Linked DNA regions of Homo sapiens: regions 2, 3, 4, 5 and 6 are each linked to region 1. Evidence: fine-mapped expression QTL. A gene starts in region 1. Each other region holds a variant in brackets. All regions are shown on one strand. Distances are between the middles of the regions. Region 1 holds the start of ATG7 (autophagy related 7). Region 2 overlaps VGLL4 (vestigial like family member 4). Region 3 holds the start of LOC102723663 (a long non-coding RNA gene). Region 4 overlaps HRH1 (histamine receptor H1). Region 5 overlaps ATG7 (autophagy related 7). Region 6 overlaps ATG7 (autophagy related 7).

Evidence for each region.
Region 2: its variant is fine-mapped to the expression of ATG7 in lymphoblastoid cells (GTEx, PIP above 0.99).
Region 3: its variant is fine-mapped to the expression of ATG7 in whole blood (TOPMed, PIP above 0.99).
Region 4: its variant is fine-mapped to the expression of ATG7 in whole blood (INTERVAL, PIP 0.98).
Region 5: its variant is fine-mapped to the expression of ATG7 in sun-exposed skin (GTEx, PIP above 0.99). The same link has a PIP of 0.9 or more in aorta, cerebellar hemisphere, cerebellum, cerebral cortex, esophagus mucosa and esophagus muscle.
Region 6: its variant is fine-mapped to the expression of ATG7 in skeletal muscle (FUSION, PIP 0.95).

The regions. Positions count from the first base shown.
Region 1 is chr3:11,270,466-11,274,552 of GRCh38, reverse strand. It overlaps ATG7 (autophagy related 7), which reads right to left and starts at 2,156. Exons shown (of 21, transcript NM_001349232.2): 1 at 2,123-2,156. RefSeq lists enhancers at 1,371-1,960, 2,109-2,238, 1,961-2,552, 2,509-2,558.
Region 2 is chr3:11,558,283-11,562,369 of GRCh38, reverse strand. It overlaps VGLL4 (vestigial like family member 4), which reads left to right. Exons shown (of 5, transcript NM_001128219.3): 4 at 2,915-3,038; 5 at 3,543-4,087. The coding sequence ends at 3,814. It also overlaps a transcript of ATG7 not described here. Among named protein-coding and RNA genes, the nearest start is that of VGLL4, 84 kb to the left of the region's middle. The variant C/A (reference allele first, on the strand shown) is at 2,047.
Region 3 is chr3:11,225,081-11,229,167 of GRCh38, reverse strand. The region is part of intron 1 of HRH1 (histamine receptor H1); the gene reads right to left. LOC102723663 (a long non-coding RNA gene) reads left to right here and starts at 3,250. Exons shown (of 4, transcript XR_001740596.2): 1 at 3,250-3,468. RefSeq lists an enhancer at 3,071-3,365. The variant G/A (reference allele first, on the strand shown) is at 1,591.
Region 4 is chr3:11,238,883-11,242,969 of GRCh38, reverse strand. The region is part of intron 1 of HRH1 (histamine receptor H1); the gene reads right to left. Among named protein-coding and RNA genes, the nearest start is that of ATG7, 31 kb to the left of the region's middle. The variant CAGAA/A (reference allele first, on the strand shown) is at 1,529.
Region 5 is chr3:11,552,899-11,556,985 of GRCh38, reverse strand. ATG7 (autophagy related 7) reads right to left here. Exons shown (of 21, transcript NM_001349232.2): 21 at 1-2,175. The coding sequence ends at 2,143. It overlaps VGLL4 (vestigial like family member 4), which reads left to right. Exons shown (of 5, transcript NM_001128219.3): 5 at 1-917. Among named protein-coding and RNA genes, the nearest start is that of VGLL4, 89 kb to the left of the region's middle. The variant A/G (reference allele first, on the strand shown) is at 2,158.
Region 6 is chr3:11,465,682-11,469,768 of GRCh38, reverse strand. The region is part of intron 20 of ATG7 (autophagy related 7); the gene reads right to left. Among named protein-coding and RNA genes, the nearest start is that of VGLL4, 180 kb to the left of the region's middle. The variant G/A (reference allele first, on the strand shown) is at 1,575.

The sequences.
Region 1 (4,087 bases):
GGCACTCCAGTGAACCACAAGCAGGCCATGCATTCTCACCTCTAGCCCTTTGCTCATCTCACTTCGAACCACTCTTCACCTGTCAGATCTCGTTCGTCCTTCAGGTCTTGGCTAAAGCAGCACCTCCTCACTGAAACCTTCTCTGATGAGTCAGCCTGACTTATGCGTACCCTAAGTCCTCCTCTACCAAACCTCCGCAATAGCTTCATGCCATACCGTTGCTATCTCCTTGGCTTAAAAAAAAAGTAAACTCTTTGAGGACAGGGATGTGTATCTTACTCATTTTTGTATTCCCAGCTTGCAGCGCAGTGCCAGACACACAGCTGAAGCTCAATAAATGTTTATTCTCTATAATGAGATGCTGGCTGGGAACGAAAAACGGAACCTGTGGTTGAGTAATGGAAAGTCCAGTACTCAGCTCTTAAAGGATTTCAAAATCATGTCACATGAGGGCAGGAAGGAGTTGGCCAAGATAAATGGAAGAGGAAGGGGAGATGTTCGAAGCAGCAGAAGCAAAGGGCTATAGGTGACACACACCTGCAAGCAGCTTAACAAGACTGGAGCAGCGTTGGGGGATGGGAAAGCAGTTTAGCAACATGAGCCATTCCAAGACTGGACTTTTCTTTATTCAAGTGTTAGGTCACTTCCTCAGGGAAGCCATCCCTGACTAGCTAGCTTTTATGCTTCCCCCCAATTACTGTCCATCCCATGACCCTGTACGTTTCAGAATCGGAAACACCTACCAACCCTTACTGACAATGCCGCCACCGCCACCACCACCACTATTATTAGAAGGTGCCATGAAACAGGGTTCTTTTTCTTCTTATTTTACTGATAGATCACCAGTGCCCACAATAATGCCAGGCACATAACAGGCAAATATTTGTTTTATTCATTCATCCAACAAATATTTATTGAGCATATATAATATGCTAGGCATTGCTCTATATGCTGGGGATATAACAAAACATGACAAAATTTGCTGTCACTGTTAAGTTTACTATGAGCAAATACATTAAATATGCTTAGCCTAGAGAAGAAAAGGTGAGAAGAGGAAGACAAACTAGCAGCTTTCAATGATGTATAGGGCAATTAAATGCAGGGGTGATTCCAAGAGCCTGAAGGAGGAACAGTGAGCTAAGATTACCGAGTAGCTGCTTTCAGCTCAACCTAAGAGTCAGAACTGGGGGAGGACCAAACAGGAGCAACCAGAAGTAGAAAGCTTTCTGTCACTGAAGAAATCTGGCCAGTGGGCAGAGGTGTCAGAGAAAAAAATCTAAGTAGTCAATGAAAAAGGGAGTCTGGGATCCAGAGGTCCCAAACTGACAGCCACAGATATGACTGGTTACAGTTGAACAGGGTTTTGTAAAAACTGAGTTGCCAATGTTTTTAAACGCCAGAATTACTTGCCAATTTTTAAAAAATGGCATCAGTCGCCAGTGTTTAAAAATCAGGAAACTGCACGCACGTGCACACACACACGGTTTGGCTTGTACTTCTCCAACATCATGTACGTTAGTACTGTACTTATAAAATTAGAAGTTTGACTCTATTTCTGACAAATGTTCTAACACCTATATTTACCTTACCGGATTGATTCTTATTGTGCATTAGTTTCTAACCCTGTAACCAAGGAATCGAGAATCTTCTTTCTCAGAAAGTAAACTTATTTAACCTCCTCACTTAAACAAATGGCGGATTATCATTCCCATTTTGCAGATGGAAAAGCAGCTTAGATGGGGAAGGAACGTGCCAGAGACAGCAAATCCAGACACAGCCAGGCTGGGAATCCAAATGTCCCATCTCCCGTGTTCCAACACTGAAGATTCTGAGCACTGCCTACCAAGAGGACAGGAGGGGCTGACTTAGGAAATCAGCACGAGCTTCCAAGTCAGAAGACCCCGGACTGAACCAGTCTGAGGGGACGCGGCTACAGACGAAGGGCGCCAGCCGGAATCAGTGAGTCCCTGGAGGAGGAAGGACCACCCAGAAACTGGCAGAGGAGGATCCTGAGACTTGCTGTGACCCTCGCCCTCCCTGGCGAGCTCGCCCCTTGACTCCAGGCCTCCAAAACCGGCCCAGCAAGACCCCACTACACCCTCGCCCGCCGCGGCTCACTTACCGCCGCTCAACTTCCGGCAACCACAGCTCTCTCTGAGGCGCGCGCCCCGATGACGCAACGCGGTCCTGCCCGCGCTTGCCACTGGGAAGCGGCGCGCGTGCGCAAAGGAGCAGAGGCATGCCGGGGAAATGCGCCCCTAGCACCGAGCTAAGTGGGAGGAACTTGAGTCGTGAGGAGGGCGGGGCATCAGGGGGCGGTGACGCCCCCGGGGGAAGCGATGGAGAGCGTCTCCCTTACCAGATGTCGGAATGTCTACATTCCCTTCAGGCTTTTAAGAAAGTGCCCACGTTCTCTCTTTTGATTTCAGAGGATGACAGGAATGATCACCATGGTCATTCTCCAGGAGAGGCGGCATCAAACGCAGCACAGGGGCCATCAGGGTGGCAGGTGTGGAGAGCCAGGAGATGAGAATTTTAGTAGGAAAAGGCCAGTGAACGTCGACAGTGACCAACCTGCCTTTTCTAAACCAGCCATCATTCTCACAGCTCCTCACTGTCAGTGAGATAAAGTTATTCCCTCTCAATACTTGGTTAGATACTCTGCGCGTGCAAAGCACTGGACAGGTGTTGAAGATACAGCAGTGATTATGACAAGTTTCTCTGTCTGGCCTGTAAGGCCTTTCACAAATTAACTCTGATATACCACTCTAGACTCATAACAACAAGAGCGATGACTGCTATTAATTAACTAGCCACCATGTTTTCAGGGTTTTACATCTCTAATCCTCACAAGAGTCCTGAAACATATCCCCAAGTTATATATGAAAGAACAGAATCTAAGAAAAGTTAGGTGGCTTGCTGAAAGTTAAAGGGCTTTTGGGCCAGGAACGTAATCTGAAGTTTGTTTGATTCTGGCAAATAAGAAAACAAATCCAGACTAATAAGGATACTTATTAGAAAGGATTACTGCAGGCCCGGCGCGGTGGCTCACGCCTGTAATCACAGCACTTTGGGAGGCCGAGGCGGGCGGATCACGAGGTCAGGAGATCGAGACCATCCCGGCTAAAACGGTGAAACCCCGTCTCTACTAAAAATACAAAAAAATTAGCCGGGCGTGGTGGCGGGCGCCTGTAGTCCCAGCTACTTGGGAGGCTGAGGCAGGAGAATGGCGTGAACCCGGGAGGCGGAGCTTGCAGTGAGCCGAGATCCCACCACTGCACTCCAGCCTGGGCGACAGAGCGAGACTCCGTCTCAAAAAAAAAAAAAAAGAAAGGATTACTGCAAGAAGTGAGAGAGGTGGGAGAGAAGGAACCGTGCAATAGCAGAGGGAGACTATTGCAATAGTGAGATCACTCTGACCAAAACATCCGCAGATGTTTCAATGGTTAGGGAAAAAGAGGGTTCCCCCACCCCCCACCCTCCCCAAAGGCAGGTAAACAAGGCTGGAAACAACCGAATATGGGAAGTGGGATGAAGGGGTGGCTTGATCAGATAGTAGATTAGAGAATGTTTTATCTTGAGGCCAACCTATTCTCAGTAGGGGTTGTGTGTGTCAGTCTCTGAGCCCAAGCTAAGCCATCATATCCCCAGTGACCTGCACGTATACATCCAGATGGCTTGCAGCAACTGAAGATCCGCAGAAGTGAAAATAGCCTTAACTGATGACATTCCACCATTGTGATTTGTTTCTGCCCCACCCTAACTGATCAATGTACTTTGTAATCTCCCCCACCCTTAAGAAGGTTCTTTTATAGTCTCCCCCACCCTTAAGAAGTTTCTTTGTAATTCTCACCACCCTTGAGAATGTACTTTGTGAGATCCACCCCCTACCCCCAAAACATTGCTTTTAACTCCACCGCCTATCCCAAAACCTATAAGAACCAATGATAATCCCACCACCCTTTGCTGACTCTCTTTTTGGACTCAGCCCACCTGCACCCAGGTGAAATAAACAGCCTTGTTGCTCACACAAAGCCTGTTTGGTAGTCTCTTCACACGGACACATGAGACAGTATGCTAGTTCAAG
Region 2 (4,087 bases), 290 kb before region 1:
TCTGGGAACTGGGACAGGAAAGTTCCCAGAGGGGCATGTATGGGGAGGCTACAGAAAGTGTCCCCCCATTTCATGTTTGTGATAGCAGCTCAGGACAGACAAACACCAAGAGGGTGGCCTTGGGCAGCAGCCAGTGAGGAGAGGCAAGATGGGGTTAAGCTTCGCACATTGAGGGCTGGGCACAGTGGCTCACACCTGTAATCCCAGCCCTTTGGGGGGTTGAGGCGGCGGATCACTTGAGGCCAGGATTTCGAGACCAGCCTGGCCAACATGGTGAAACCCTGTTTTTACTAAAAGTACAAAAATTAGCCAGGCGTGGTGGTGGGTGCCTGTAATCCCAGCTACTCGGGAGGCTGACAGGAGAATCGCTTGAACCCGGAAGGCGGAGCTTGCAATGAGCCAAGATCGCGTCACTGCACTCCAGCCTGGACGACAGAGTGAGACTTTGTCTTTAAAAAAAAAAAAAAAAAAAAAAAAAGTTTGGCGCAGCCAGCCTTGGGGGTTGCTTTCAGATAGGAGAGGTGGTGGGAGCCCTCTCCCCCGGGGCAGCCTCTGTCTGAGGACAGTCACAGGTGGGTGGGACAGCGGGTGAAGGGGTTAGTGACAGGGCTCATACTGGCCCTGCCACAAATCCGCAGCGTAACTTCCAACAGGGTGTTTCTGGCCTTCATTTTCCCCATCTGGAAAATAAGGGTGTGGGGGAGGGGAGCCTCGGGATCCCATAAACGCTCACCATCTGGAGGCCTGGGGCCCGTTCTAGGTGGACGAGTCCCAGCCTGCACTCAACCACAGAGGCAGGGGCAAGATGCCTGACTCCAGCTGGGGAGGAGGGGTGGTGGAGCCAGTCCCACGAGGGCTCACGGGCCACCCTGCAGCCTGGGTTGTGGGGAGGAGGAGAGGATGCCCAGACACTGAACATCTTCACATCTGCAGGTGACCGGTTAAGGCAATTCGCCCCAGCTCAGGTCAGGAGATGCCCTGAAGGTGGTCTGATACCAGTCAGCCAGCCTGCCCTGCTGGTCCCTTGTTAGAGAGTCTCTTCTGAAGTGGCCTTTCCTGCCTTGGATAGACTGACATAAAGGCTGGACAGTGAGCTCATTTCTTCATCTTCCTTGATTCCCCCTCCCTGTGCTCGAAATGTCTCCCCAGTTCCCCACATTTGCGTGGGTCAGGACACGCTCGCTGCAAAGAACAAGCCGGCTGAGCACAAAAGGGAGTTTTATTGGGAGGACCCTGGGGGGGGGTCTCCTAGAGCCCAAGGTCATGGGTGCAGCCAGGCTCAGGAAGGGCCTGGCCATCTCTGAGAGCTGGACAGGGGCAGGGCCCTCCTTCCTCCTGGCTCTGTGCGTGTCCAGGTCTCGGTATTCTGCTCTCTTGCTGCTGCTTGACCCCTGTGGTCAGCCAGTGTGAGATCTGCTCCAGGCCTCATCTGTCGGTCCCCAACCCCCTTTCCGAGCCTGTCTGCTCAGCATTGTGAAGTCTCTCACCCGAGGCCCTGTCCACAGGCAGAACGTGGACATTCAGCCCAGCTCCACCTGCCCGGGTTCTCTCTGCGCTGCCACCTGTGCACACCATGGAGGCCGTACGAACCCTGGGCAGCTCTGTCCCGCTGCTAAGTGTCGGGCCACTAAGAAACCCTGAATTCTTGGTTGGTCTGCTGTTGCTAAGCCACATCCCCCCCTACCCTGGCATGTGTCGCTTCTTGTTAGACCCAAGCACAGGTCCTTGTGTTCAATCCCAGTTCATCCTTGTGGATCCACATTTTCATCCTAGAATCCACTTTCACCATTCCCAATCACTGTCGTCTATCATGAGAAGGTCTGGCATGCAAGCCTTTTGTGTCTTTATACCAGCTACTGCTCTAACTTTAATGGAAAGGGCTGGCTGGGGAGGATAAGGCCCAGCGTCCCTCTGGCTGACACTGCTGTCACCATTGGTCCCTGTGGGGTGATTTCAACCAGCTCCTTGCTGGCTGTCCTGGAACTTAGCCCACATACTCCACCACCTTGTCCTCGGGGGTATTGGAAGATACTTTTCCTGGGGGAA[C/A]CTGAGGAAGTTCTGTTTAGTTCACAAATATTTTCTGTCCCAGGTTCCACACCAAAGCTGGGGGGCCAGACATACTGCCTGGTGTGCATGGTCTTACGGGAGCACCTGGACAGACCGATGCACTTGCTGAATCTTGGTGGGTTAGGGGAGCAGGAGTGAAAAGCGGTGGTGGTGGGGCGGTGGCCAGTGAAAGGCTTCAGAGAGAGATCTGAACAGGGCTTGAAGGAACAAGGGGAGTTTGCCAGGCAGACAGCGTGGGGGTGGGGGTGAAGGAGAGAGTGAGGCTGTGCACAGGGCAGATCGGGCTGGGGTGGGATGTGTGCCGTTCCACACTTAGGCATATTTCCTCCATTTCCTCTCTGTCCCGATTTGTAGGTCATCACTGAGGCCAACTCGAGCTGGCTTTGGCTCAAGCAAAATGCTTCCAGTTAATTGCCGTGTATTGAAGTGTCCTGGATGGCTCCAGGCACACCCGCGGCTCAGTGGACATGATGGGAAGGGCTCTGGGGACGTTAACGGGAGAATCGAGGTCCCTCCTGCAACCCTCTGTCCTCCACAGGATGCCCGGTGTTTGTCTTAACAGATTTGAGAGATGGGGACAGACCAACTCAACAGTTGAGCTTTTGTCCTTTGTACCCTCACTGATCCAAACAGCCACGACCAAGGGCCACTACACACACCCTTGGAGCTGCGCTCACTCTGTGGATTGGCTGTGTTTAGCAACAGGACTCCAGTATTGAAGTGGGAGGTGGCAGACTGGGTCAGGAAGGGCACCAGGACAGAGCCTGAAGGGTGCTGGGGAGGGCCCCAGGGGTGGTGCCCGGTACTGAAGCTGGTCTCCACATACTGACACCCCTCCTCCCCGCAGAACCGGCCCTCCGTGATCACCTGTGCCTCGGCTGGCGCCCGCAACTGCAACCTCTCGCACTGCCCCATCGCGCACAGCGGCTGTGCCGCGCCCGGGCCTGCCAGCTACCGGAGGCCACCGAGCGGTGAGTGTCCCGGGCCTCCTCACCTGTCACAGCTGTGCTAGTGGCAGCAGAGCCCTTCTCTGTCATGCTGTTGGCTGAAACCTCTCGCCCCTGAGCCCATCTATTGCTGAGGTTGAAAAAGTATTTCTTGAGCACGTCCAGTGTGCGCCTAGCGTTGCGCATGACTTGGGTGGGAAGGGCATGAGAAACACACCGCCTCGCTCAGTTCCAGGGTCTCATGCCCTAGTTGCAGGGAGGGCAGCGGCTACTGTTATTTAAATTTAATGCCACATTCTCTTTCTGAACTCGGACTCTGGCCCAGTGCAGTTGGTACATCACCATTTTACAGAAAAGTGACCTGCCCAAGTGCCTGACTTAGCCGGGGGAGGTGGGTTCTGTCTGCAGAGCCCACGCTGACCGTGGCAGCCAGTCCGGCTCTGGGCTGCCTGAGGGAGGGTGCTGCAACCGTGCCTGTCTGTCTGCAGCCACCTGTGTCTGACTGCCTGCCTTCCTGCTTGCCTGCAGCTGCCACCACCTGTGACCCCGTGGTGGAGGAGCATTTCCGCAGGAGCCTGGGCAAGAATTACAAGGAGCCCGAGCCGGCACCCAACTCCGTGTCCATCACGGGCTCCGTGGACGACCACTTTGCCAAAGCTCTGGGTGACACGTGGCTCCAGATCAAAGCGGCCAAGGACGGAGCATCCAGCAGCCCTGAGTCCGCCTCTCGCAGGGGCCAGCCCGCCAGCCCCTCTGCCCACATGGTCAGCCACAGTCACTCCCCCTCTGTGGTCTCCTGAAGGGAGCGCCTCCTCCAACAACACGTGGATCTGCATGGTTTGCCTGAGCTTTGAACAGTCAGTACTTAAAAAAAAAAAAATCATGGGGGTGGGGTGGGGGGAAGGGAAGGGATGGTTTATTTGCAAAAACCATGTTGTTGGGATTTGTGTTCTGTTTTTGTACTTGCTTGGTATCCGTACAAGGGGGCCCTCAAACATGATAGCAGGAACTACGCGTGGAACATCTGTCTAATGTAGCATCCTTACTTCCTGCCTCAGTTACCAAAGAAACCT
Region 3 (4,087 bases), 45 kb after region 1:
ATGAAAAGGACAAAGGAAAGGTGGAAAGGTTGATAAAGAAGATGGGAAGAAAAAGGAAGGGAGGGAGGCAGAGGGAAGGAAAATGTCAATGAACTTCTATTTATTCTACGACGTCCATCTTAACTGTTCCTTCTTTTTTGAAGCTTTCCTGTATCCCTTAGCCATATCTAAGCATTTCTTCTTCTGGGTTCCCACAGTATTGTTTCCATATCTCTATTAAGGCATTTACCACTATATTCTTTTTTTTTTTTTTTTTGACATACTCTCATTCTGTCACCCAGGATGGAGTGCAATGACAAGATCTCGTCTCACTGCAAACTTCACCTCCTGGGTTCAAGCGATTCTCCTGTCGCAGCCTCCCGAGTAGCTGGGACAACAGGCACGCACCACCACGCCTGGCTAATTTTTGTATTTTTTTAATAGAGATGGGGTTTTGCCATGTTGGCCGGGCTGGTCTCAAACTCCTCAGGTGATCCACCCATCTCGGCCTCCCAAAGTATTGGAATTACAGGCATGAGCCACTGTGCTCGGCCCACTATATTCTACAGAATGAATTCAGGTGTCCTTCACGTAGACTTTGATCCCTACAAGGGCAGGAGCACTGTGATATTCACTTATATTTCCAGCACCTAGCCCAGTGGCTTTCAAACTTGGCTGCACATTGGAATCATGAACAGAGCTTTAAAAAAAATACTGATGCTGAGGACTCACCACTCCTGGATTTGATTCTGGTGTAATTGGTCTGGGGTATCTCTGGGTTTCAGGATTAAAAAAAAAAATTTTGTTAGAGACAGGTTCTCGTTCTGTTGCCCAGGCTGGAGTGCAGCGGCATGAGCACAGCTCACTGTGACCTTCAACTCCTGCCCTCAAGCAATTCTGCCTTGGCCTCCTAAAGCACTAGGATTACAGGCACGAGCCACTGTGCCTGGCCTGGATTTTTAAAACTCTCCAGATGGTTCCAATGCAACCAATATTGTGAATCACTTTCCTAACTAAAGCTGAATTATGGTAGGAGGAGTTCAGTAAGTGATGAATGAATAAGTAGATGAATCCTGCCTTTAACGCACCACAGTTCTGACCCAACATGACCACATTCAGAGTTTCATGTTATGCTAATTCATTAATATATTCAGGAACTATTAATTAAACAATAATGTGGTACCAGGTATTATGCTAGGCCAAGCCACTAGAGATGGAAATGTGAATAAGACTCCCAATTCTCCCCTCGTTTTTGATATGCCTTAGGGATGGCTGGGGCCTGTCCTAGTTCATCCAAGAACTTTCTGTCCTGCTGATTAATTGGCCAGCTCCAACAGCAATCATTTCCCTAGTAACTGATAGCAAATCTTACTTCTGGCTGCTTCCTCAGGCAAGTGCTATCTAAGGACAGACTCTATTCACTCTCAGAGAGAGGAAGTTCCTAGGGGGTGTGGGCAAGTCAAGAAACCACAAAGAAAGTGGTCTTGTCTAGATCTCTTCAAGCACTCCAGAAGTGAAAGGAAGATGCTCAGGTGCAGACCAGAGTCCTGTGCAGCTCAGACAGGCCTCCTTCTGGGTGTGTATTTACATAATGAAAAGGTAAGGCCGGGC[G/A]TGGTGGCTCACGTCTGTAATCCCAGCACTTTGGGAGGCTGAGGTGGGCAGATCACCTAGGTCAGGAGTTTGAGACCAGCCTGGACAACATGGGGAAACCTCGTCTCCACTAAAAATACAAAAATTAGCCAGGCGTGGTGGCGGGCGCCTGTAATCTCAGTTACTTGGGAGGCTGAGGCAGGAGAATTGCTTGAACCAGGGAGGCGGAGGCTGCAGTGAGCTGATATCACGTCACGGCACTCCAGCCTGGGGGACAGAGCGAGACTCCGCCTGAGGAAAAAAAAAAAAAAAGATCTTAATCACCCCATAGGCAAATGGCATTTCCTTCCCAACCACTACGGTTCCATGCTCAGACCTACTTCAAAACTCTGCACTACAGGTGACTGAAGAGCAGAGATGATGTCCATGTGGGGTCACCCCTGTTCTGTTCTGCTGCAGACTTTGACAACATCGTCTCTCAACTGCTGTCACAGCTTCCTAACTGGTCTTTCTGCTCCTGGTTTTGGCCTCTTTCACACAGAAGCCAAATGATCTTTCTAAAACCACAAATCCAGTTCCCCTACTCAAAACTCTTTAATGGCTGGCCACTGTTGTCAGGATATACAGAAGCACCCTGGCCCCACATGTGTGATACAAGGGTAACAACCCAAATAAAGTCTACACATGGTATCTTCTTTTTTTTTTTTTTTTTTAGACTGAGTCTTGCTCTGTCACCCAGGTTGTAGTGCAATGGTGCCATCTCGGCTCACTACGACCTCTGCCTCCCAGGTTCAAGTGATTCTCGTGCCTCAGCCTCCTGAGTAGCTGGGATTACAGGCACCCACCATGACACCTGGCTATTTTTTTGTATTTTTAGTAGAGACGGGGTTTCACCATGTTGGCCAGGCTGGTCTCCAACTCCTGACCTCAAGTGATCCACCCGCGTCAGCCTCCCAAAGTGCTGGGATTACAGGCATAAGTCACCACGCCTGGCCCCATGATCACATTAAAAAGAAATTCAAGTCCAACATCCAGAAAATAAAACGATATGGAAAAGTAACTTCAACCTTTACTGAAGACTCTCAAAGAGGCAAAACCATCACAAAGAACTTCTCCCATCTGTCGCTACATAGCGCCAGCTACAGCATCACCTGCTCATCCTCAAATCTTCCTGCTCTCTCTCTCAAAAACTTCAGGTTGCCTTGGTTCCCCTTTAATTCCCTTTTCCCTTCTTTCACCCACTCTTCAATCTTTCTGATTTATGGAAGAGTATCATGTAATTTCTAATATAAATGAACTTAGCTTTCCCAGTGCCCTCTTTTCTTTACTCATTACTCTAATCAGCCTGGCAAATGCCCACGAGATAAGCAAACAGGTCTACTCCGGAAACGGAGGGAGGGTGCCGGGCAGTGGCTAGTATATGTCAATACCTTCGACCCATCACACAGAGCTTTTTCCACCTGGTCTCACCTTACTGTGCAGCCTCATCTCTGATTCTCCACTCTCCCCAAATAGGCCCTGCTCGTGTACACCCCATACCTTTACAAATGCTGCTCTCCTGCCGGGAATGCCTGTTCTCATCCTCTTACCCTGGCAAGACATTCAGTTAGTTCTTTACAACCCAGTTCTGATGTCACTTCCTTTTAGTCATTCATCCGTCCCTCTGGGCTGGGTTAATTCACTTCCTTCTCCAGGGCTTCGCTGAACTCTGCACAGACCTCAATTACAACCCTTATAAAGCTGGGTTGTGGTCGGGTGCGGTGGCTCATGCCTGTAATCCCAGCACTTGGGAGACTGAGGCATGTGAGTCGCCTGAACCCGGGAGGCAGAGGTTGAAGTGAGCCGAGATCGTGCCACTGCACTCCAGCCTGGGCGACAGAGCGAGACTCCGTCTCAAAAGTAAGTAAGTAAATAAATAAATAATAAAGCTAGGTTGTAATTCCTTAATTACTGATCAGACTTTTTTCACTAGACTGTGGGTGTCACATGTGGGTCTGAGTCATCTCTGTGTCCTCAGAGCCAAGAAGTGGGGAGGTGCTTAATGAAGTTACTGAATGCTCCAGAAATATGTTCCCGTCACTGAGTGCTCCAAAGAGGCATTCACCTGTCTCCTCTTCCCTGATCATCCCTCGGGGCTACCTGGAGTGCCTGCCAGATCAGAGTTTGAGAGATCTGCCCTGGCAGTCGCCTGACTAGGCCTACATATCTTCCCGTGTCTGGCCAGCCTTCCAGAGAGCAGTCTGTCCCTCTCTCCGACTCCAGCCGGCCAGGCCTGGTTCTCACATTGTCAAAAATAAAAGGAGTTAAAAGAAGCCAAGCGATTAGGCAAGAAAAGGAAATGAAGGCATCCAGACTTGAAGGAAAGAAGTGAAACTATTTGAAGATAACATGGTCTTGTTTGTAGAAAATCCTGGGGAATCTACAAGAAAATTTTTAGAACTCACAAATGAGTTCCAGGGGCCCAAGTCCTCAGTTTGGCTTTGAAGGGGTCCCTTGGTCTCCTGGCCCTGCTCCCCCT
Region 4 (4,087 bases), 32 kb after region 1:
TGCACTCCAGCCTGGTGACAGAGCAAGACTCCATCTAAAAAAAGGAAAAAAAAAAGAGAGACCCAAACCAATACAGAACAGCAGAAGCCAGGGGAGATGTACTAAGTGCAGAAAGTGTAAGCATAATTTTCAAAAGAAGTTCAGACTTAAAGAAGTTTGAGGTAGGATTTATCCCATTGACGAATATTGTACCATACCTTTTGGTCCACTTTTCTACTTTTCCCTGAACACTTTATAGTTAAAAATTTATCTCATGGTAATCTAAAATGTAAATAAAGATTTATGCACAAAGACGCTCACTGCAACATTATTTATGATAGAAAATAAAGAGAAATGAGCTGGCATTTGGGAACTAAATGTATCTTGAGGTAGTGTGTCCGGAGTTGGTTCCTTCCGGCAGGTTCCTGGTGTCGCTGACTTCAAGAATGGCGACGCAGACCTTTGCAGTGAGTGTTACAGCTTTTTTTTTTTTTTTTTTTTTTTTTTTTTGAGACGGAGTCTGGCTCTGTTGCCCAGGCTGGAGTGCAGTGGCATGATCTTGGCTACTGCAAGCTCTGCCTTCCAGGTTCACACCATTCTCCTGACACAGCCTCCCCGAATATCTGGGAGTACAGGCACCCGCCACCATGGCCGGCTAATTTTTTGAATTTTTAGTAGAGACGGGGTTTCACCATGTTAGCCAGGATGGTCTTGATCTCCTGACCTCCTGATCCGCCTGCCTTGGCCTCCCAAAGTGCTGGGATTACAGGCATGAGCCACCGCACCCGGCCAAGTGTTAGAGCTCTTAAAGATGGCAAGGACCCAAAGAGTGAGCAGCAACATTTACTGTGAAGAGCAAAAGAAGAAACCTTCTACAGCCTAGAAGGTGACCCAAGCGGATTGCCTCTGCTGGCTGGGGTGACTAGCTTTTATTCCCGTATTTGTCCCCTCCCATGTTCCGTTTTTGTCCTATCAGAGTGCCCTTTTTTCAGTCGTCCCCACTATTGGCTACTTTTAGACTCCTGCTGACTGGTGCATTTTAGAGAGCGCCCACTGGTACATTTTGCAGAGTGCTGATTGGTGCGTTTTACAGAGCGCTGATTGGTGTGTTTTATGTTTTAGAGAGCACTGATTGGTGCATTTTTTTTTTTTTTTGAAACGGAGTCTCGCTCTGTCCCCCAGGCTGGAATGCAGTGGCGCCATCTCGGCTCACTGCAAGCTCCACCTCCCAGGTTTGCGCCATTCTCCTGGCTCAGCCTCCGGAGTAGCTGGGACCACAGGCGCCCGCTACCACACCCAGCTAATTTTTTTTTGTATTTTCAGTAGAGACAAGGTTTCACTGTGTTAGCCAGGATGGTTTCGATCTCCTGACCTCGTGATCCACCCGCCTCGGCCTGCCAAAGTGCTGGGATTACAGGCGTGAGCCACCGTGCCCAGCCTGAGTGGTGCATTTTATAATCCCATTGCTAGCTACAGAGTGCTGATTGGTGCGTTTTACACTCCTAGCTACCGAGTGCTGATTGGTGCGTTTTACAATCCTCTTGTAAGA[CAGAA/A]AAGTTCTCCAAGTTCCCACTCCACCCAGGGAGTCCAGCTGGCTTCAACTCTCAGTGGCTACAGAATAGAATATCATGGGGTCCTTGATAATCATTACAGAGCACCAGCAATTAGGTGGTAAAATGCTTATGATGAAATTTATAGAAGACGTACGTGGTTTGTTTGTACAGGACAATGTCAATTCTGTTAACTAACAGGCTTCTATCCAGGGTGAATCTTTGTTATGTTACATCAACCATGGTTTTCTCTGGGTACTGGATGATACTTATTATATTTGGTATTTCTCAGGATTTCAACAATGAGATTGTCTTTATTTTATAATAGGGAAAATAAGAGCTAACTGCATTCATTTTGAAAAAAACAAAATATAGATTCCTTCAATAAAAAAATAAAAATAAAGAAATGTTTTCCACATGCTTAGCACATCTTTTATTTTCTCTAGTACAAAGTGAGAGTTTGGGATTCCTTTCTTGATTCATTCTAAACTGCCTCACCTGCTACTCCCCAGTCCAAACTTCTCTATCCTCTTCATCATTTGTAGGCTGGTTATTCTAGTCAAGTAAGTCAGAACATTAATTTCTTTGATCTAATTCTGAGAAAGAGGTGTCATGCATGAGGGTGCTCCAGTACTGCATAATCTCATTAAGTCTGGCCAGGTCATAATTTCCATGAAACACCCAGGCTTATCAGTGCCACTGGTTGTGATGAACAGAGCAGACTGCAAATAGCAAAATGCCATTATGGGCCTAGTATTACAGGAACCTAACTGACTTAGAATCTGGAGGAGTTCTGGCTTAAGAGTCAGCCTCTGGGTAAGATGCAAGAGGCAGATGACCTTGCGGGCAGGTAGTGGCCCCAGTGGGTTTTCCAGGGGTGGAGGTACATGTGCAAAGAGGCTACAGAGTCAGAGAAGAAAAGCTACTAAGAACAGAGGACTGTGTGTGGAGCAAGAGGGAGTGGTAGGGATCGGGGCAACCTGGAGAGCCTGTCCTCTGCTTGAAGAGGGCAGCTGCCACTCACATTCTACCAACTGCTGCAGACTCAGATCTGCCTGTTTTTAAAAGGAAACACAAAATCTGGAGTTTTTACATGAAATATTTTAGTTTTTAAATGCTGTCAATTATTCAATTGTTTCATTTGTCTTCTTGAACACTACACAGGGTAAACAAAATAAATTTTGTAAGCCCCCAGGTAGAAACCTCAAGCTGGTTCATAGGGGATGCAGAATGCTGAATATGAGATAATGACCCAGGAGTGGACACCTTTTGGGGTATTTTCCCAGCTCAAGTCAAGCCTCCTCTCTGAGAACCATCATTTCACCTAGGGTGGGCTCTGGCAGCCACAGTTATACTATGTAACCCTGACCCCTGGGCACACGTGATTGAACCAGAAGTTATCTCTGACCCAGAACAAACCAGTCAGCCCAGTTCTCTCTTCTGGAACACTGGAATTGGAGTTGTGCCATCAAGACAGTCTGTTGGTCTCACATATCTGATATATCATATATCTGATGTATCAAGAAGACAAATGAAACAATTGAATAATTGACATCATTTAAAAACTAAAAGATTTCATGCAAAATCTCCAGATTTTATAAGTGGGGTTAAGTGGGGGTGGGGGGCTGCCACTGGGGGCAAGAGGAGGAGTGTTGCTCACCTCTGGGAATGCTAAAATAGAGGAGGGGATAGAAGAAGGCAGCAGACAAAATGCAATAATTCATATGCTGGAACAACCGAGATCTACCAGCAGAAGGATGAATTTAGACCTTTCCCTTATATCATACACAAAAATTACTCATAATTGATGATAGTCCTAAATGTATGAGCTAAATTTTTGTGACCTTGAGTTAGGCAAAGATTTCTGAGACACAGCACCAAAGGCATAAGGAATTTTTAAAAACTGCTAAATTGGACTTCATCAAGATGAGAAACTTTTGGGTTTCAAGAGGTACCACTAAGAAAATGAAAAGCTATGGAATGGAAGAAAATATTTATAGGTCATATATCTGATATATCATATATCTGATGTATCCAAAATACACAAAGAACACTTCCAACTCAATCATAAGAAGATAAATAACCCAATTTATAAATAGGCAAAGGATTTATATAGACATTTCACCAAATAAGATAGAGGAATGGCTCAAAAGCACATGAAAGGATGTTCAACATCATTAGTCATTAGGGAAATGAAAATCAAAACCACAGTGAGATACCACTTCACATGGACTAGGATGACTATAATTTAAAAAGAAGGACAATAACAAGTGTTGGTGAAGATGTGGAGAAAGAAGAACTCTGAAACACTGCTGGTGGAAATGTCAAATGGTGCAGCTACTGTGAAAAGCAATCTGATAGTTCTTCAAATGGTTAAACATAGTTACCATATGACTCAGTGATTCCACACCTAGATATATACCCAAGAGAACTAATCGTGTGACCACAGAAAAACTTGTATGCAGATACTCATAGCATTATTCATAACCACCAAAAAGTGGAAAAAAACCAAATGTTCATCAACTGGTGAATGGATTTTGATTAAAATGTGGTCCATT
Region 5 (4,087 bases), 280 kb before region 1:
GTTGAATTTTGGAAATTGGCACTGGGTGAAAAGGTCGGAGGACTGGCTCTTGTAGTCACAGAGTGGCTGCAGGCCTTTGAAAAGTGGAGGAAAGAAAAGCCCTTCTCCTTGCCCCGCACACATTTCACTCCCACTGTACTGGGCTTCCAAGCTTTGGCATTCAGGCCCCTATATTTTCTGTAGGAAAAATCGTTGAGAACACTTTTCTATATGGGTGATTTTGAGACCATCGTTACGCTGTGCGTAAAGAATGTACAGAGAAATTTGTAGGTATTTTTTGAAGAACATTAATTTGTTAATGATATGTAGCTATTTAATTTTTCCCTTTCCTATTGTAATCATTCATTTTTTTTGTTGTTCGGAAAAAAAAAGTTGATCTTTTTTTTTGTCGTAGATTTGTCTGTAAAAGTGCAGGAACAGTTATTCTATGAGAACACTGCATCTGCATTCATAGCCACGAGTTTGTTATTGCTACAGGCTACTGAGCGTCGTAACAGGAAAACCACCCACAGCTGACCGGCTCGGTGGAGGACACTCCTGGGACAGGTCTCTTTGTCAGTGAACAAGGGCGTCACTCTGGGAGGGGTCGGCGGTGCTGGCGGCCGGGTCCCTGGTGCACTGACCTATCTGGGATAGGCAGTACCCTGGAGGGGGGCCTGGGGCAGAGGAGGCAGCAGAAAACCAAACATTTCACTGAGAAAGCCCCCTCCCTGCTCTAAGAAGGGGCTCCGTGAAGTTCTTCCCAGAGCCGCGCTGCCTGCAGTGCGCTCTGACCTTCTCTTCATGTGTGTAAATCTGTAATATACCATTCTCTGTGGCCTGTTTTTCCTGGAAGAAGAAAAAAAAAGGTTTGGCAGGCCATCTTTTTTTGTACTTAAAAGTAGCCTTAAGAACAATAATAAAGTGCTCTTAAACCACATAGTGTACGTGTGCAGTTTCAGCGCCAGGCTGGGTGGGCGGACTCGGGCCCTGCACCTGTGCCGGCTGTGTCCCCATGAAGCTCCCATGAGCTGAACGACAGCCACTGGAACTTGGACTGGCTACTTTGGGAGAAGCGAAGCCTCATTTGAAATCTACCCTACTAAATCCTACTGTTGTAAGGGTCAGCTCGACTCAATTTTCACTTTGATTCTGGGCCTAAGACAAAAGCTGAAAGAATAAAATAGCAGGAAAGACGATGCCCTCTACACGGGGGCAGGGTGGTCACAGGTACCTAGGCCATGGCCTCTCCTGGGTTGGGGCCTCACAGCTGCACACACCCAGAATAAAGAGGAAAACCAGCTCTTGCCTGAGTTACCCATGGTAGAGCCGTCTGACCCCTCCCTCGGCTGGGGCAGGAAGGCAGCCCAGGCTCGGCCTTTCTGGGCCTGGCCTGCTCATAAGGGCAGGGAGGAGCCCCATCCAGGCAGCTGCCAGGATCTGCCCCTGGGCTCTTCCCCCCAGCTCAAGGCAGCAGCAGAAACTCCTCTCCCTCAAGCAGGCAGGCAGGCACAGATGCTATGCCCACAGTGGAGGACAGGCTGGGAGGCAGAAAGCCATGTCTGAGCAGCTCACTCAGTCCTTGGTGGAAATCTGGCGTCACTGGGTCATGTGGGCCCTTTAGTCTCGTACCCAGCTCGGCTCTCCTCCTCCTCCCGCTCCACCAGGGCCAGGGTGCAGTGCGCTCACGGGGTCCCACCCTCACCCATGCCCAGGGCCCCCACAGGAGGAGCCTGCGGTGCGGTGGGCAGCACATTCCGGGGATGAGGGTGCCACCTCCCGCAGTGGCTCTGGGCAGGAGCTGGTTGCTCATTTCCCCATTTGGTCTGTGTTGGGTCACCCCCTCAGGGCCAAGGGGAAAGGATCCTGGGGGATGGCTATCAGTCACTGTGACAAGAAATAAAAACTGCATGGAGGACCAAGTCCCAGGTCAATAGCAAGGCCAAGGCCAAGGTTATTATTTAGCTCTGAACTGGTGGTATCTTGAATCCCGAGCAACGCCGAACACTGGCCACTCCTGGGCAGCAGAGGGGGGAATCCCAGACCTCGGGGTATGGAGGAGGGGCCCAGAATCACCAGGCCTGGGGTCAGCAGTCCTGCTCTGGCGATGGAGAGCTCCTCAGCAGGCGGCCGGGGAGAAGTCAGCCCCACAGCGGGGCCATCTCAGATGGTCTCATC[A/G]TCGCTCATGTCCCAGATCTGCATGGAGAAGGGGAGAGGCTCAGCCGAGATGTCCCACTGCCCGGTGGGGGGCACACAGATGCTTCAAAACCGCAGCAGTCATGGCAGCTCCCACCTGCAGAACCACTCCCTTGTTTCTGAGGGACTGTCACCCCATTTCTGTACAAGGAAACCAAATCTCAGACTTGCCAAGGCGTCACTAGTGTGTGAACCACCTGGTGGAACCAACAGGGGAGGGCTGGGATTTGCACTGGGGAATGTGCCTCTGCTCACCTCCTGCATGTCCACCTCGGGGGACCGTCCCTGACCCAGCCAGCCTCTGCTCATCCTGGCTTCTGCAGCACTCACCCCCACCCCAAGCCAGCTTGTTCTCCTTGTGGTCCACCTGCCCTCTGGAAGGCAAGCTCCCTGAGGGCAGGAATTCTGGCATGGGCACGTGCTGCCTTGGGAGGCTGCACCCTGGGCACCTGCTCCATGTTCCCTCTAACTGTAGTCCAGCTGCCCACACTCCCAACTCACACTAGAGAGCTGGCTCAAGAGCAAGCCCTCCCCACCAGCCAGGGTGGAGGTGGCCTGGAGCAAAGACAGTGGAGACAGCCAGATCCTGCCACAGTCCCTCAATGCGTGTCCTCCGAGTCTGAGCCTCGCAGTGAACCTGGGGAGCAGGAGGCCCCAACGTGGCTGTGAGGAGAACTGAGGGACCCAGCAAGAGCCACCCTGGCCGACACCCCCATGGGCCCAGGCCCATTCATTCCCTGCAGTCCTTGGTGTCAGCCCCCAGGGAGAGAGCCCAAGGCCAGCACAGCAGGTCCCAGGGCCCCTGGCACCCAGGGCTCCCTGGAGGGCCAGTCCCTGAACCTACGCCTTCAGACTTCCAAATTCCTAGAATTGGTTGCAAAAGGCCACCTCAGTGCTAGCAGAGCTGAGAGAAGGAACAGCATGTTTACACGAGGCTGGCCCGGGGAGATGGGAGGCCTGGCCAAGGTAAATATCAACACCAGCTTGGCTTTCAAAGTCGAGGATGTCGAAAATAAATAGAAGGAAATTTCCTCTCTCCTGAGGACCCAGCTCCCAGGCTGAGGGGAGGCAGCCTTCTCACTGCCCCTGTCTCCCGAGGCCAAACTATCTGAGCTCTTGGGAGGGGACTGCCAAGCGAGGTCTAGATGCCAGCCCAGCCAGGCTGTGGATGGGCCGGTCTGCGGTCCAGTGACCAGGTGTCCCTATCTCTGGGTCAGGTCCCCACCGAGCTCATCCTCAGTGCGGCTGGAAACTCCCCCAGGGTGGGACTGAGCAGTGCAGGGCAGGGGAGCTGTGTTTCTAACAAAGGTTGCATTTAGGAGCTCCTGGATCTGATCTCTGGGTTCTGATGGTCCGAGTGGAAGAAACTGAGCCCCTGGAGGGTTTGCCAGCACAATCCATCCATTCTTTCACTCTCCCATTCAACGAACACACATTCATGTAGCCAGCTCTGTGCCACACGCTGTGTAGACCTGCTGCGAATACTCCCTCTTTCACTCCTCACATCTACCTGTGAGGTGACCTCACATCTACCTGTGAGGTGAAGATGGAAACAAGCCCAGAGAGGTAAGGCAATTGGCCTGAGATCACACAGCAAGCAAGCTTCAGTGCTGGGAACCAGGGGTGTGTGGAAAAGGGCGGGGCGGGCTGCCTGGAGGAAGGGGCCGAGGTGGGAGGTGATGGGGCAAGATGGAGAATGAAAAGGGTGAGCATTGTGGGCCGTGTCCTCCGGGACCTCCTGCCCAGCCTCCTTGGAGGGCTGCCAGCCTGGGCAGGGCAGGGTCAGTACCAAACAGCAGTGCCCTCTGCAAATGGGTGGTTGGGGTTGTTCTGTTCATAAGAGGACTCGGGCCTGGGCCGGGGCTGGGCTTTATAGGAAAGTAGAAACTTTCAGGGAGGTGTTACCCATTTT
Region 6 (4,087 bases), 200 kb before region 1:
ATGATCTACCCCGCCTCAGCCTCCCAAAGTGCTAGGATTACAGACAGGAGCCACCATGCTTGGCCCCAGTACACCATCTCTAATAGCCTGTAAGACATTAGCTGGGCTGCAGTGGACAGGGCTAACTGAGAAGAGGAACGTCAATACTCCTGAGCTGGGACATGCAGCTCCCATCCTATACTTCCTCAGGTGAAAGGCCAAGTGTATCATCACTCCTTTAAGAGTATGGAGATGAACATTTTGTCACAGAGGAAAGAAAATCAGTGGACTAATAGGTAGGTTTGTTGGTGGCATGATTTTATTTTACTTTTTTTTTTTTGAGGTGGAGTTTTGCTCTTGTTGCCCAGGCCGGAGTGCAGTGGCACGATCTCAGCTCACCGCAACCTCCACCTCCCGGGTTCAAGCAATTATCCTGCCTCAGCCCCCCAAGTAGCTGGGATCACAGGCATGCGCCACTACGCCTGGCTAATTTTGTATTCTTAGTAGAGATGGGGTTTCTCCATGTTGGTCAGGCTGGTCTTGAACTCCCGACCTTAGGTGATCCACCTGCCTCGGCCTCCCAAAGTGCTGGGATTACAGGCATGAGCCACTGCACCCGGCCTTATTTTACTCTTAAAGCCAGATCTATAGCTATATTTTGTTCACAGAATTGCCTGCTACCCTCTTCAACCATCTCATCTTCTGTTGACAGGTCAGGACTTGATTCACAATGGGCCTAGCTTAATTGTGTAAATAAGCAAACTCAAGAAGAGATGAGAGAGCCATCATGCAACAACCCAACAAGATTGGGCAGCTGTGCACCGCTTCAGCTTTTCCATCCTCAATCTGCCCACACACAGCCTGGAGGGCCAGAGGGGCAAATGTGCAGTCTACAAACATTACAAAAATACATTAGGTCCACTCAGGGTCATGGTTCCAAATCTATTTTAGACCAAAGATGGTATCTGTTGAGAGTCTGATGAAACCGAGCCTCCCTGGCTGCCCATAATACACACACGTAACATTTTGCGTACAGTCCCTGGGCATTCAGGAAGCATCCCCATCCCAAGCCCACCTGTGGTCCCACAGGCATTTAGAGGAACAGGTCACAGGGCTTGAAAGAATGAAGTAGTGGGGGATCAAGAGTTCCTCTTTCTAGGGCTGTGTTTTCTCCATGACACAGTTCATAGCATGAACGTCCCTCTCTGTGGGGATCGAGAGGGCTAATGAATGATGTGAAATCCAGAGCCCAAACACTGACCTGTCAGCTTGTCCTCAGTGGCCCAGTGCCTAAGTCCCAGCAGCTGTGGAAAACTTCAGAATCTTATGACTTCCAAGGTGGTAAGTAAATAAAAGTCAGAGGATGGACTGGGGACATGGAGTGGGGAGGAGGATAGGCGAGGCATGATCCAGGCCTTGGAAAAAGCCATCAGTTCTTCCAGGGAAGTGGCGGGCTGGCCTGTGCTCTCCCACTAGCTCCACTTACCCCTTCCATTCTCATTCTTCACTTACGCAGAGACTGCAGATTCCTCGGGTGATTGGTACCAAAATCCAAATGGTAAAAATAATTTGCTAAATACCTTCCTAGACAAATT[G/A]AAATCCAAGACCTTTCTGAGCTGTGTCCAGCCATACCTCAAAGGGCGAGCAGGGATGAAAGTCACGCTCTTCTATAGCTGAATTTCTGACTCAGACTTCTGCCTGTCAACCTTCTGATGTCACAAGTCAAACTGTGCCATCAAAGGCTGAGTAAGCATCTTTTGGAAATAGAAACTCAACTGTAAGAACACCAGTATTTCCAAACGCAAAACAACTCTGCCCAGTTTCCAAGTCAGCTACTGTATATAAATTTAGCCATGACACTGGGGGAGGAATTCTTTCTAATTCTGTATTATTTTGGCAAAAAAATTCAAAGGTAAAAATATTAAGTAACAATAATGTACCAGTTACTTTGTTAGGCAAGACATATAAAGCAGTAAATAAGACATATAATGTCTTTGCCTTTATGGGGATTATATTTGAGTGGGGCTGGGGTGGTAGACAGAACACAAATAAATAATAATGCCAAACGGTGATAAGTCCCACATAGGAAACAGGACAAAGGAATAAAAAAATAGGGCCAGGCGCATTGGCTCACGCCTGTAATCCCAGCACTCTGGGAGGCCAAGGCAGGTGGATTACCTGAGGTCAGGAGTTCAAGACCAGCCTGGCGAACATGGTGAAACCCCGCCTCTACTAAAAATACAAAAATTAGTCAGGCACGATGGTGGATGCCTATAATCCAGCTACTCGGGAGGCTGAGGCAGAAGAATCGCTTGAAGCTGGGGGGCGGAGGTTGCAGTAAGCCGAGATCGCACCATTGCACTGCAGCCTGGGCGACACAGGGAGACTCCATCTCAAAACAAAACGAAACAAAACAAATTACGGTTGAGGTAATATTTTATGTCCATTTTACGGATTAGGAAAATGAGAACAACAGGTTAGGTGAGTTGTTCAAAGACTTCCCAGCTAATAAGTAGTGAATTTAAACTCAGGTTGGTCTGACTCCAGAGTTGTTACTAACCACTGCCCCATGCTATCTCTTTGGCTTCCTGAGAAACCAAAGAATCTGCAGAAGTGATAGGGTTAAGAAGCCATCAGTTTTTTTTGTTTGTTTTTGTTTTTTTCTGAGATGGGGTTTCACTCTTGTTGCCCAGGCTGAAGTGCAATGGCATGATGTCAGCTCACTGCAACCTCTGCCTCTCGGGTTCAAGTGATTCTCCTGCCTCAGCCTCCAAAGCAGCTGAGATTACAGGCGCCCGCCACCACACCTAATTTTTTGTATTTGTAGAGATGGGGTTTCACCATGTTAGTCAGGCTGATCTCAAACTCCTGACCTCAGGTGATCTGCCCGCCTCGGCCTCCCAAAGTGCTGGGATTACAGGTGTGTGCCACCATGCCCAGCTCCATCATTATTTTTAAAAGTCCCTCCATTTAGGACATAAAAATTTCTGAGATCTGTGAACACAAATGAGTGTACTACAAGCTGTCATTCTGATGCTAATGCATCCAACAGTTGAGTTTCTATAGATGATATTGAACATAAAGGTGCTATAATCCTTCATACAACCCTCTGAGAACTGCTTTTTCCGAAAAGAGCAGTAAGAGCACAAAGGCTTACAGAGTTTAAGAAACCTGTTGTAAATAATGGAACTTATAAGCACCGACGCTGTAGTCTAGGCCTCGTGCCTGTGACTACAGTGCTTTTTCCATTACACCATGCTGCCTTCCAGAAGAGTCCCCAAGGAGTTACATTTTTCTCCCACTGGGAGACAAGGCAGTAACTAACTTGGCAGAACAGAAAGAAATGAGTGACTGTTTTGTGTCTCTGCCAAGCAAGTATTCATGCCCTTTGCAATATGACGTGGACACAAAACCAACTGATCTTTAGCAGCTAAGCATTCTAGAATTTGCTGAAGAATTTTCTCACCTTACCCGTATGGGGTCCAAAATTAAGAGGGGAAAAACATATTTATGTCTCATTCAGAATTCAAAAAGCAATAAATCCTTCAAGCCCCTGGCAAGTTTCTTTAATCCACTGTAATCATGTTTCCTTGTATAACAAGTCTTGTGATGTCTGCAGCAGCTTCTCGCTAGAGGAACAGCAGCCTCAATGCTGGAGTTCTTCTCATGCCTGGGGGATTATTCCATTTTCCACATTAGGAATAAGCCGCAGACTTTAGGTTCTAAAACGGAGCCAGAAAATGCTGACTAGAATCCAGATGCCCTAAATATAATTAGAGCTAAATTTTACTGCCCTCTGTGAAAGACACAAATGAAAAGAATGTACCAACTTTCAGAATATTGATCCAGAGAGCAAAGTTATGAATAGAGCCAGCATGGGTTCTGCTGCACTGAGAGGCCCTTAAAGCTAACCAGGGGCTTTCCAATTCTCTCCCCTTCTTCTTATCCCTGGGTTTTTAATTTTTATAGAAGCCAAATATATTAGGGAAGGAAGAGGGGCTACAGGCTTTTTTATTTTTATTTTTTTGAAGCAGGGTCTCGCTGTCGCCCAGGTTGGTGTGCAGTGGTGCAATCACTGCTCACTGCAGCCACGACCTCCTGGGTTCAA